Regions from separate parts of the Homo sapiens genome. Here regions 1 and 3 are each linked to region 2. Evidence: fine-mapped expression QTL. A gene starts in region 2. Each other region holds a variant in brackets. All regions are shown on one strand. Distances are between the middles of the regions. Region 1 overlaps SHISAL2B (shisa like 2B). Region 2 holds the start of SREK1IP1 (SREK1 interacting protein 1). Region 3 overlaps SREK1IP1 (SREK1 interacting protein 1).

Region 1 (4,246 bases), 49 kb before region 2:
TTCTGATCAGCAAAGATCCATATTCCTTCACCTTTGCTCATTTTGGACTCATATTTATATGGAGTGAGTGAATGGGATTGTGGCACTACTGTGTCCTTTTAATAAACCACATCTAAATCAGTTATAATGGCAAAGCCTTAAGGTTGGGCAAGTTACTATGATTGGCTTTAGTGTAGTTTATGCATAGGAGAGGGACAGTCACACTTTTGTTAAGTCACTCAGAAATTGTTACCTTCTTATCAGATGTGTAGTTATTTTCCTCATGGAAGCATGGAGGAAAAAAGGTAAGCATGGAAATAAATTTTTTTATTACTGAATTATTTCCCTTATTTGACTTTCATAAGGAAATACTCAAAAACCACTTCAAAATAACTCAATTCTCACTCATACACATAGCATTTTCAGGACATCATATTTTCAATATTGCTACAAAAATTATTTTTAAGTGCAAATTTTTATAAGTGAAACGATGTCATAATTTCAAATAATTATTTTGTTTTGTGTATCTGCAGGCAAGTCAAATGGAAAAACCAAAGCCCTCAATTCAAATGCAGCATCAAATGCAACAAATGAAACATACTATGAAGCTGATGATATAATTCAAGAAAAAACAATGGATGCAACACAAATCCACATTGCTTATTAACTAAAAATTCTGTGTTTTAAATGCTTACTGGAGAGATGGGACAATAAAAATAAAGCGTGCACTTGAAACGGTTTGTAATATTGCTTTTCAAAAATTCGTCACTCACAAAGCAAGACACAGCTGCATTTTTGATCATTCAGTTACTTTATTAAACGCACATTAAGGTTTTATTGGTTTTCCTTTGTATAAATTTATTTGCTAATTAAGATGTTTCTGTATCACATGAGATTATGCTAATTATTCAGGAGAAATTAAATAATTTATCAATAACAAGATAAGCAGTCCTATCTCAGTGAAGAACAGTGAGAAGTTTATGTCACATTACCAGCATTTCTCAACTTTCTGATACTTACAGGCAGTTATTCTTATGAGATGGTACTGGATAGGTAAATATCAAGGGAACTGTCTTAAAAACTAGAGGTGACTTGTTCTTAAATCTCTTAGAAGTCAACCCACATCTTTTTAGATTTTTCTGGGCACAAACAATATACTCAGTAACAAAAAAATCACAATGTATAATCTGTACAATAAATATTTTGTTTCAAGAGATAAGCATAACAAAAAATCCTTTGCTGATATATTTCCTAAATAATCTGTATAATGAAAGCTACAAAACAAATGAGTTCTCTGGTCCCACCTAATGCTATCACATTAATACCACCTAGAAATCTAGAAATAAAACTAATTTCTGCAAATTATAATTTTTAAAGATTTTTATTCATAAGTGTGTTTTCTATTATAACACAGACCTGGTTTTGTAACAGAATTCAACAGAAAAAAAAAGGGAATTATTTTAAGCAGCTCTACTGAGCATATCTACTATGTCCTGTAGTTTTTGTAGTCAGAAACTAGCATTTCAGACAAGATCTGGCACATTTAGGGTGGTATGGCCATAGCCAAAAACTAGCATTTCAAAATGTGCTGAATACAGCTTCTCTGGTCTGATATATAAAAAAGAATACCTTATTTTTCTTGGGCATGCAAAGCTCAGGGTTACAAACTTTTCGTCATTAGCCTGTCAAAATTTCTACCAAGTACTAAGGTTATCTTCTAGACCAGAATTAAGAGAAGTTTCTGTGATGATGGAAATGTTCTTTCTATATCTGCACTAATATGGTAGCCACCAGTCACATGTGGCTACTGAACACTTAAGATGTGGCTAATGCAACTGAAAAAATAAAATTTTTCATTTATTTAATTAATTTAAATAACCCTATGTGGCTATACTGGCACCATAGTGCCAGATCACTATTGCAACAACCTACTGCCAAAGTTGAACTTCACATTCAAAAATACAATTTTGCAAAGGTTTAAATACTAAAATTGCTTAAAGTATATGTTAAGTTTGAAAATTAAGACATTTCCATTATAAAAATGACATTTTACACGGCCATAAAAACAAAGAATTTTCACTTATTTTTTGTGAAAGTTTATAAAGCTTTTATGGGTGCTTCTTGATCTTTGATACAACTTTGATTTTAAAGTATCCCAGAAAATTTGCTATCTTTACA[G/C]TAATTTAATAATATTACCATATTGTCTCAGGTGAAAATCTAGGTTGAGAAAAATTTAGTTAAGGCACTGGCACCATTCTACTTTTGTTGCTCATGGCCAAGGACTATAAATGGCACAAGAAGCAAGAAACAGACAGAGCTAGCAAAATGCTCACTGCCCCAACTCCTCCCAATTTGTGGGAAAGGCATAGTGGGGTCAGGCATGACTGGATGCATCATGGGTTGTGCTATAGAAGAGGCACCCCAATTCTCTGCCACTCTACCTATTTTTAGAGGAGTTGGGAGGAGATACTGAGATCAGAAGACTGGCCTTCGCAACTGGGATTATTGTCACACTGGTATAAGAAACCTACTGTTCTTGGGCACCCAATGTCCAGGAAGTTTTGGTCTCAGCACTAGGATCAGCTGGAGTCCTTGAAGCACTCCCTGCTGAGCTAGCTTATCACTAGGTTACCTGAGGTAGAACCACAGGGCTCATCCAGTGGACCAACTGGTATGTTTCTCTGTAACTCTGAAGCAGTTGTGCTTCACAGGTTAAGCCAAATTTTAAAAGCAAGGGGCCTTATTAAATTACAGCACATTTTGTACACTGAAAAATATTCTAAATGGTTTATTCGGACCTAACAAATATTAAAATAGTGATAGAATTTAAGTCAGTCAAAAATAACCTAAAATACAATTAAGAACAAAACACATCTCAAAGTATGTACATGTACATATAACTCTGGGGATGGATCTAATAAAGAATACAGTAGCTTTATGTGTTTTTAGATGATTTAGGTTACTGTGTAATTTTTGGAAATAATAATGAGACTGTAGAAAGAAATGTGAGTCTAATAATAGAGCCTAAAATAATCAAATTATATTTTATGTAGCCTTCTAATGAAAGCAATTTCATCTTTTAAAAATGGTGGGATTAATCGGATTATGAAATTGATAAAACCAAACCCTAATAAAAGTCATTTCCTTCCTTAAAATCTTTTTTTTTTTTTGAGATAGAGTCTCGCTCTGTCGCCCAGGCTGGAGTACAGTGGTGTGATCTCAGCTTACTGCAACTTCCACCTCCTGGGTTTGAGCGATTCTCCTGCCCCAGACTCCAGAGTAGCTGGGAATACAGGTGCCTGTCACCACGTCCGGCTAATTTTTCTATTTTTAGTAGAGACAGGGTTTCGCCAAGTTGGCCAGGCTGGTCTTGAACTCCTGACCTCAGGTGATCCGCCCGCCTCAGCCTCCCAAAGTGCTGGGATTACAGGCGTGAGCCACTGTGCCCGGCCCCCCTTGAAACTCTTTAATGGTGTCTCATTGCTTACACATTACAGTTCAAGCTCCCAAACACGGAACACACGACTCCTTCCTCCTGTTCCTAAGAACTTAAAATGGTAGTCTCAATTCTTACCACTTCCTGCCTCGCCTATGATACACCAGCAACACCAGATTGCTTGTAATTCTTGACAAACACATAACACAGCTTGTTCTACCTCTGGTGTTTGTTCACAGTACCCACTCTGTCAGGAACTGCCATAACCCTCATTCTTATCCTTAATCAAATTGCAATTCAGTCACTACTTTCTCTAGGTAGCCTCTTCTAATTTATCCAGACTACTTTAGGTAACCCCGAGTTTCTATAAACTCATGTTCATGTCAATTACTGCACTAATTATATAACGGTGTATGCTCTGGTGTTTCTCCTACCAACTACACTGTGAAGTCCTTCAGGGAGGCAAATGTGTCTTACTTATCTCTGTATCCCCAGTACTTAGCACAGCGTTTGCCACGTTAGGTACTCAATAAATATTTGTTGAAGAAAGGATTCAATGGCATTTTTATCAACATTATTAACAACTCTTCAGCCTAGTTTACTCTGAAGGTAAACTAGGGTTATATAATTTTAGATACAGTTGTAAATACAAACACATATAGTTGTTTTACTTCTCATTTATTGTTGTTTTGACCTCAGAGAGTCAAAGATGTAAATGGAGATGTATATTAAGTATGAAGAAATAGGGATACCTCTGAGAAATATCAACCAACATATGATATGCAAAAAAAAAAAAGGGGGAAATTGTGTGGTGAGAAGGTCCATCAACCC
Region 2 (4,246 bases):
AGCCACACATCATTATAACTCACCAGAATTACTCCTAACTGGTAAACTTTGTCTCCAATCTACTTTCTAGCCAGAATTATCTTTCCAAAATGTGAATCTGCTTTAAAATCCTTAAATGGCTTCCTGCCATCTGTAGGATAATGCCAAACCTCTTGTCATGGCCTACAGGTCCTTAAAGAGCTGGAAACTACCTTGTAAGTTATCCTATACGATGGCAAAATGAATGAAGTACACAGTCTAGAGGAACCAGACTGACTTCTTGCTTTCCAGCTGTCTCATAATAGGCAAATTACTTGATTTCTTTGTCCCTCAGTGTCCTCATCTGTAAAATGGGAATATTAATACTCATTTCACAGTGCAGTTGTGAATATTAAATGAGATAGAATACAATGTTTGATATAGTATCTGACATATTTGACTTATAAATATTAGTCAATATTAGCTACAGTTACTATCTACTTAATTTCTCACTTACCTCCCATTTGTATTTGAGTTCTATCCACAGAAAACATCTTTCATTCTGACATATTTGACACATAAATATTAGTCAATATTAGCTACAGCTACTACCTCTGTACTTAATTTCTCACTTATCTCCCATCTGTATTTGAGTTCCATCCATAGAAAACATCTTTCATTTCCTCTTTTCACATATTTCCTCTTCCTTTACGTATCCAGTTCCTCCGACTGCAGTCTCCTCTCCCTTCAAGCCACCCCTCCTACAATTCAGATCTCCTCCTAAGTGCTACCTCCTTTGGAAAGTCCTTCTGCCCATCCTGTATGTGTTTGGTGCCCTTACTTTGTGCTAAGGTCTTGTATTTTCCTTGCCATGGCACTTGTCCCACTTTCTGTAAATTTCTCTCTCTTCACTGCTAAATTCTAAGTTCTGTGTGAAGCGTAACCATGTCTACCTTGCTCACCACTGTATTTCCAATGCCCAGTACCAGTGCCTGGCACACAGTAGGCTTAATAAAGAGTGTACATTTCCTCTCTCACAGCTCCAGATGTACTCCTCCGCAAACTTCAGTTAGTACAAAAGCACAGTGTTCCAATAACAGCTATCTGTAGAAGGAGGTTCAAAAAGGCTGCCACAGAATAAAGAACCTGGTCAAATAATACTGGGAAGTGCAGGTTTAAACAAAGTTAGGGTTCTGAACCATAGTAATTCTATAGTTCATAGTAATTCTATAGCAATTCATAGTATTCTATTCTAATAGAATAGAATCTTTTCTATTACTAAAGTGCGCTGGGAATTTCCAAGTTGGGAGGTGGGGTGGAGAAGTGTGTATTTCTGAAAATGTCTCCTGCAATCAGTGTTCTGCAGTGGCAAAGCTGGTTTGAGGAGATGCTTTCCGCTACTAGAACTTCCAAGTAAGCTGGTAGTTGAGGACGAGAAAATCTTTTAAGTAATTATTCTGCAGAGTTCACCGTTTTTAGGTCAGTAACTTCTGGACATAGAATTTGAGAGTTAGAAGAAATCTTATATATAATTCAACAAAGCTCCTTCTTTTTATAAGGAAACTGAGGCCCAGAAGCACAAAGCGACCAATCTATGGCCACGGAGCAGCTACATACAACAGGAAGAGCTAGGAGTAGAACCCGCACACCCGGTGGGTCCTAGCGACTTCTAAGACAAACGATGCCTCCGGTTACCTGGGTCGGCCAAGTGTTCCCACTTCAAGTTTTAGTTTTAAGCCATACCACAGTTAAGGTAGTTTTTCTCGGCCGCTTGCCCCCTTAGGCCTACAGTTACAGTCTCTCCCTCCTCCCTCCCTTCCACAATACACTTTCCCTGTAATCCCAAGCAGCTGGGGCTTGGCTCCTGGGGGGAAGATAGTTATTTTCTTTCCTTCAGAGTTTATGTTTGGAGTGTAAACTTTTTCATGTAAACAAAACAAACCTGTGAATTTTAAGGCCTCCGCCTAAATCCCCATGGGCGCTGCTCCGTACACGCCGCACCCTACCCTACCCTCCCTTGCGCTCCCTTCGGAGCTCGGACGCAGAGGCCCTGTAATTGCTCCTTACCTGGGACTGCCATGACGGTGGTAAGAGGGGTAACTCGAGCCTCTGGCTTTCGAAAAGGCGCTTGCTTCCCGCCAGCTGTGAGAACAAGGCACAGTCAAAGCGGCGTTTTCCTTCCCCCAGCGCAGCAGCACCCTCGCTACGGTCGGGAAGGGCCTGTACGCCTCTAGCGACGGCAGAACCAGTAGATGCGGATGCAGTTTCCGGACGAGTCATATTGCAGAAGACACATGGTCCGAACCATTACTGATAGTTTTGGAGGGGGAGTTAGTTTGATCTGCACACGAGAGTAGTGTAAACACCGCCAACACTTATGAAGTGTCCCTTCTAATATTGTAATACAAATAACATAAATAACATTAAGCTATGGTAACTTTACGGACTTTTCTCGTTCCCTGGAGTACATTGGAATAACCCTTCTCAGGGTTAGCGGTGCTCGGGTCCGGTAACAACATGGCGGCGTCCGTGAGGGGCTCCTTTGGGCAGGGGTAGTGTTTGGTGTCCCTGTCTTGCGTGATATTGACAAACTGAAGCTTTCCTGCACCACTGGACTTAAGGAAGAGTGTACTCGTAGGCGGACAGCTTTAGTGGCCGGCCGGCCGCTCTCATCCCCCGTAAGGAGCAGAGTCCTTTGTACTGACCAAGATGAGCAACATCTACATCCAGGAGCCTCCCACGAATGGGAAGGTGAGAGCCTCATCTAGGGAACTTGGGGTCCTGGGATCCCCAAAGTGAGATTTCCCGGATTTGGGGTGGGGAGTGGGTTTCAGGATCTCGTGGTAGGAAGAGACCACGAGAAGTGTTGTCTTTACTCCTGCATGTGGACAATGTTGCATCGAAACACTGATGTTGGTACTTTTCAGGATGTACTTGAAGAAGTCAAGTGGAGATTTCTCTACCTACCAGCATTCCGGTCCTATTTAATGCTTTAACCCAACTCATGCAGCCGATTTCTGGGGTCTTAGGTTTTTAAACAGACATTTTTGAGTTTGATATATTCTTTGCTTAACTAAGGTCATTCATTCTCCATTTCTTCTACAATCATTAATTGAACGCCTGCGAGGCACTGGGCACTGTACTAGGCGCCGGAGATACAAAGATGGATGGGTAAGGTAGTTGTTTTCCCGGAAAAGCTTATAGTTTAGTTTGTGAGACAGACAGGTAAACAAAAGCCTGTATGTCTGATAAGCGTGCTTGTGGAGAAGAGACCAGGTTGCTATGGCGGTACTGAGTAGTGAACAACTGGGGAAGTTAGGAAAAGCCTCATGGAAAAGATATCTTTTGAGCTGGTTTTAAAACCTGAGATGACTGTCAGTCAGAGAAAGTGGGAAATGGGGACTATTACCACATTAGAATGGGGAAAGGTTTCTCTGATTGATTTGATGGCTAATGTATGCCAATTCCCATCCAAGATGTTTGTATGCTGTACAAGGCAGAAGAGTCTGTTGTGGAATAAGTGTCACCTGAATTCTTAAATTGAGACCTAGCTTATATCACATATGAAATTTGATGAATCAGCATATTGGAGAAAATGAGATTGGAAGTATATAGTTGAATTAAGATAAGCTAAATTTACACAACATACCATCCTGTTTGTTACATGATTGCATCATAAATAATTTATACAGTCTTTTATTCATTGACATTTGATAATGTAATGAGAGCAATTTAAAAGTGAAACCAAAAATGCTGTAATTCCCAGCAAAAATGTAATGGATATTTTATGGGCAGACCAATTCTTTCAATTCTTTGTTTGAACTTCTCCTGGGCATTGTAGATTAGTATGTCCATCCCACCCCTCACCTATCTTATTTAATATCAATGTGAAAACCCAAAATACCTACCTCCTCCTATTTCCAAATGTTTCTTGAGGGCAATATCACCCCCAGTTAATAAACACTGGTAGAGATTGAATAGATTTACCATCCTGCCAGACAGGGCCTTCACACTTGCTGTTCCTCTGTCTAATCAAGTGTTGACCTTAGCAAAGAGCCCTTTCTTATCTACTTTCTATGAAATAGCAAACTTCAATCATGCCTTGCATCCCAGCAGTCTCTGGCCCCCTTAACCTTTTTAGTTTTTTTCATGGTATTTATTAATTATTTAGTATTACTGTATCCTTCCTCCTACCTTCCCCCTATAGAATGTAAGGAACATAAGGGCAGAGACAAGCATCTGGAACAGTACTTGATACATGATAGAAGGAGTTCAGATAGGTATTGAA
Region 3 (4,246 bases), 44 kb before region 2:
AAGAATATTTTCAAAAAACTAGCAGCAAAGGCAAAACAAATCCCTAAAAACCTACTGGCTCTGTATTTTTTCTCCCAGTAACTGACTGACCTATTTAAACAAAAGCATTTCCTTTTGAGAGGCCCAAATGACTAAATTAGGTTATGGAAGGGTTGAAAGCGTGAGAGCTCTCATGGCTGCAATGCAGAGGGCTGTGGATACAGCTTCCCTAGAATTTAAGCATGGGTAAGCATATGTTAAGAGGAGTTATAAGGCTCCCTGAGTCTTACTGAGGGTATCCACATTGGGTGCCAGGTGAAACAAGAATCAGTAAACCTTTCTAGCCTGTGAGGTTAAGTATACTTAGCTGATTTCACTATCATGAATTCACCTGCAGCCGTATCTATAGGTTATCAATTTGAAAATTTCTAAGCGCACCATAGTGAGGTATTTGCAATCTTTGGTGCTGTGCCATGACATTGGTTGATGTTCGATGCTTCTACAACATAAGCATTTACTTTAGTGGACATAAGGGCTACCTAAGTATTAAGCAAAGTAACACTGATCAATGTGAAAATAGAAATTTAAAAAACGTATCTACTAATATGTGTTTGAAAATGCTTACCCATATAAAATTTCCATTATTATACAAAGGCTTTCATGATGCAACTCCCTGGCTCTTAAATTTTAAAAAGTACAGAATAAAATTCTCAATTCTTTTTTTGACACTTTTTACTCTTGAGTTTGCCACTAAAGTAAAAGAGAGAAACATCCCAAACTGGTCATTTATGAAAACGTTAAGTTCAGTGTGAAACTTGCTTTAAAACTACAAATTATGTCAGACAAAATAAATATATATGCTCACATTTATAAAATTTTCCACAGTACTCATAGAAACAAGCTTCATAAAATTTATACTGAATACAATAAAAATCAGTTCTAATAAAGATTTAGCTATCTTCCTAAATAAAAATTTCTGTGTTTGAGGTATCACTGTAAGACATGCCAATATGGCACATTTGTAAAACAACCCAGGAGTCTATTCTAAAAATCACAACCAACTCAGCATCATCTCTGCAGACTTACTAACAGGCTGAACTAATCTCTTTATACAAGAAGTATTTTAATTATTACAAAAACAAAGGAGGCAGGTACTAGAAATTCTGCATTTCATAGAAGAGTAAAACTTTGTTAGAGATATTTTCATGATCATCTACCTGCAGACACCATTCATTTAAAAAGTCCTAGTCAAGACCATTAAGCAGCTGCATCTTCTACAACATTGAAAAAAAATCCCTAGAGATTTAAAAAACTGAAGAATTTCACTATCTTTAAAAGATATTATATTTTAGTACATAAAGCTATTAAATTTCTCTGTGTCAAGAGCAAAACATTACCCCTTACCTTGCTTCATCATTGGAAGGTGGACACCTGATCCAGCAATACTCATTAACTGCTAGGTAGATGACCCATGTTGATGGCAGTAAAGCCATTTTACAATGAACTTATGAAGTAGTAACACTAGCCAAACACACAGAGACACAAATACCAAAAATGATGTGTTTAGTATACACAAATAGCTATACTTGGGGCATGGCTATCAAGTAACAAGACTGATTTAATACTTTACAGTTACAGCACATTAAAAATATATTGCCAGAGGGATAATGGTC[C/A]CAAATACGAAAAATGTCTATATGGAAAAGGCTGTGATTTATTGCAAAGCATAATATATAGCAAATTCCAAGGAAGGGCAAACACGTTTTAAAAACAAATTTTTAAATTTAACGGCTTAAGCCAAAGTCTCAGTTACTTTCTGGAGAATTCAGAACTATTAGGTGTAGAAGAATGCTTTTCCTTTTTTCTCTTCTTTTTTTCCTTTTTGTGATGTTTCCCTTTTTTTGATTTACTCTTTTTTTCTTTTTTCTTTTCTTTCTTCTGATATTTTTGTTTCTTTTGTTTTGAAGTGTCCTCTTCAGTGGAACTGGATGAGTAAGACCTATGGATAATAATACATACTGACTGAGAATTGCATTTATGACTGATAGATAAATTTAAGTGGGATTTGAACTGCCTTAAATTCTTCTTGGAGTAAGGTAGGGAGTATAAACATAAACTTAAAAAATGCTTCATATATTTGCATTCCCTTAAAACGATGAATTTAGAATTTTTGCTGCTTGGTCACAGAAACCAACAAAACTAGTATCTATTCCACTCAATACTAATGTAATGAGTTTTAAAGTCAATAAGGATGAAATTATTTTTCTGTGATTTTTGGTTTTTCATGCAGTCATATCATTCAAAATCCTAAAAGGCAAACAAAGGGGCATTCACCAAGCCTTATTATATTCACTTGTGTATACAATAACTTCGCATATTTTCTTAAAAGTGTCTCAAAAGTTGCAATTCTCTATTTTAAAGGGCTATAATTGTACGTTCATATGAATGAATGAAAGCTGAAAGTTAGCAAAATAAAAGCACTTTTGGTAATTCTTCTGATTTTTCAAGTACTTGATCCCTCTAGACGGAGAGTGATACAGATGAATACTTGCATTACAAAATAATTTTCATTAGTTACAAAAGGATGCTTTTATGCTATATATAAATGAAAAAGGATGGGTTATCATTGTGCTTTTGAAAAATATTACTCTAATACTAAATTGAAAAAATTGGTTCAATTCCTTCCTCTAATATTCATAAAAAAAAGGAAAAGAAAAAGAAAAAAACAGAAAACCCTATCTTTTAAGATCTTACTTAAAGAGATGTGCAACATTCTACCTATACTCAAACTCAAAATATGAGTGACAAGACAGAAACTGAGTTAATTTAAAATGTAAACAAAGGTATCTAAAGAGTTAGTTTAGTGATCTAAATATTAGGAGTTAAAACTCAAACTAAGAAAATCTGAGACGGATATAAAGGAGGTGCCAATGTAAATTCAGGAGACTACAGGGCTCCAAGGCTATTTTGTGTCTGTATAGTGTGTGAATTCCTTGACTGCCTTCCTCCTTTAGTGACTCCGAGTTTTCCCTTATTTTTGTAATGTTGTGTTCCTTTTTCCTCCTTGTTTGTCTACTTACTTAGACTTCCAATCATCTGTTAAAGCTTATTTTCTCATGTATTCTCCTGCACCCTTGCCTCTTCAGTTGTTATTCTCAAATCTTGTCTATTTTCCTCTTTTAAAGACCCTGTTTGACTTGACCTCTGGATTCTGACTAAAGCTTCTTCCCTGCCTGCACTTTTTTCTTTAGCTTTTTGGTCCTGAAGTTTTTTTTTTTGTTTGTTTCTTTTTTTTTTTTTTTTTTCTGAGACAGAGTTTCACTCTTGTTGCCCAGGCTGGAGTGCAATGGCGTGATCTCGGCTCACTGCAACCTCCGCTCCCCCGAGTTCAAGCAATTCTCCTGCCTCAGCCTCCCAAGTAGCTGGGATTACAGGTACCCACCTGTAATCCACCAGCTAATTTTTTTTGTATTTTTAGTAGAGATGGGGTTTCACTGTGTTGGCCAGGCTGGTCTCAAACTCCAGACCTCAGGTGATCGACCCACCTTAGCCTCCCAAAGTGCTGGGATTATAGGAGTGAGCCACCGTGCCTGGCCTGAAGTCTCCTTTTTAAGGCAAAATTTCAGGCTGTGGCATAGCAACACTTTCAGGGGGCACTATCTCTGCTAAGTGTGCACAGAAAAGTTAATTTAATTTCAGGTTTGTGATGCTCAAGGTAAAGAGGCCCAAATAAATAATCTGTTACTATAAAAAATATTTGGGAGGCTGAGGCAGGCGGATCACAAGGTCAGGAGATTGAGACCATCCTGGCTAACACGGTGAAACCCTGTCTGTACTAAAAATACAAAAAAATTAGTCGGGCATGGTGGTGGGCACCTGTAGTCCCAGCTACTGGGGAGGCTGAGGCAGGAGAATGGAGTGAACCCGGGAGGCGGAGCTTGAAGTGAGCTGAGACTGTGCCACTGGACTCCAGCCTGGGCAACAGAGCGAGACTCTGTCTCAAAAAAAAAAAAAAAAAAGAAATATACAGATGTACTTCAACTTATGATGGAGTTACGCCTTGATAAATCTATCTGAAGCTGAAAATACACAAAATACAGCTAACCTACTGAACATCATAGCTTAACGTGGCTGCCCTTAAATATGCTCAGAACACTTACATTAGCCTCTAGTTGGGCAAAATCATCTAACACAAAGCCTATTTTATAATAAAGCATTGAATATCTCATGTAATTTATTGAATACTGTCCTGAAAGTGAAAAATAGAATG

The links. PIP is the estimated chance that this variant, and not a neighbour inherited with it, causes the effect.
Region 1: its variant is the best candidate, but not a certain one, in a credible set for the expression of SREK1IP1 in whole blood (INTERVAL, PIP 0.64).
Region 3: its variant is the best candidate, but not a certain one, in a credible set for the expression of SREK1IP1 in skeletal muscle (FUSION, PIP 0.86).

What each region holds. Positions count from the first base shown.
Region 1 is chr5:64,717,377-64,721,622 of GRCh38, forward strand. SHISAL2B (shisa like 2B) reads left to right here. Exons shown (of 3, transcript NM_001164442.2): 3 at 513-814. The coding sequence ends at 646. SREK1IP1 (SREK1 interacting protein 1) reads right to left here. Exons shown (of 5, transcript NM_173829.4): 5 at 772-4,246. Among named protein-coding and RNA genes, the nearest start is that of SHISAL2B, 29 kb to the left of the region's middle. The variant G/C (reference allele first, on the strand shown) is at 2,158.
Region 2 is chr5:64,766,480-64,770,725 of GRCh38, forward strand. SREK1IP1 (SREK1 interacting protein 1) reads right to left here and starts at 2,212. Exons shown (of 5, transcript NM_173829.4): 1 at 2,026-2,212. The coding sequence starts at 2,038. CWC27 (CWC27 spliceosome associated cyclophilin) reads left to right here and starts at 2,451. Exons shown (of 14, transcript NM_005869.4): 1 at 2,451-2,709. The coding sequence starts at 2,668. LOC124900985 (a long non-coding RNA gene) reads right to left here and starts at 2,017. Exons shown (of 4, transcript XR_007058787.1): 1 at 476-2,017. RefSeq lists enhancers at 1,496-2,222, 1,594-2,793, 1,945-2,034, 2,185-2,504, 2,223-2,947 and a silencer at 1,963-2,257.
Region 3 is chr5:64,722,599-64,726,844 of GRCh38, forward strand. SREK1IP1 (SREK1 interacting protein 1) reads right to left here. Exons shown (of 5, transcript NM_173829.4): 5 at 1-1,975. The coding sequence ends at 1,786. Among named protein-coding and RNA genes, the nearest start is that of SHISAL2B, 34 kb to the left of the region's middle. The variant C/A (reference allele first, on the strand shown) is at 1,653.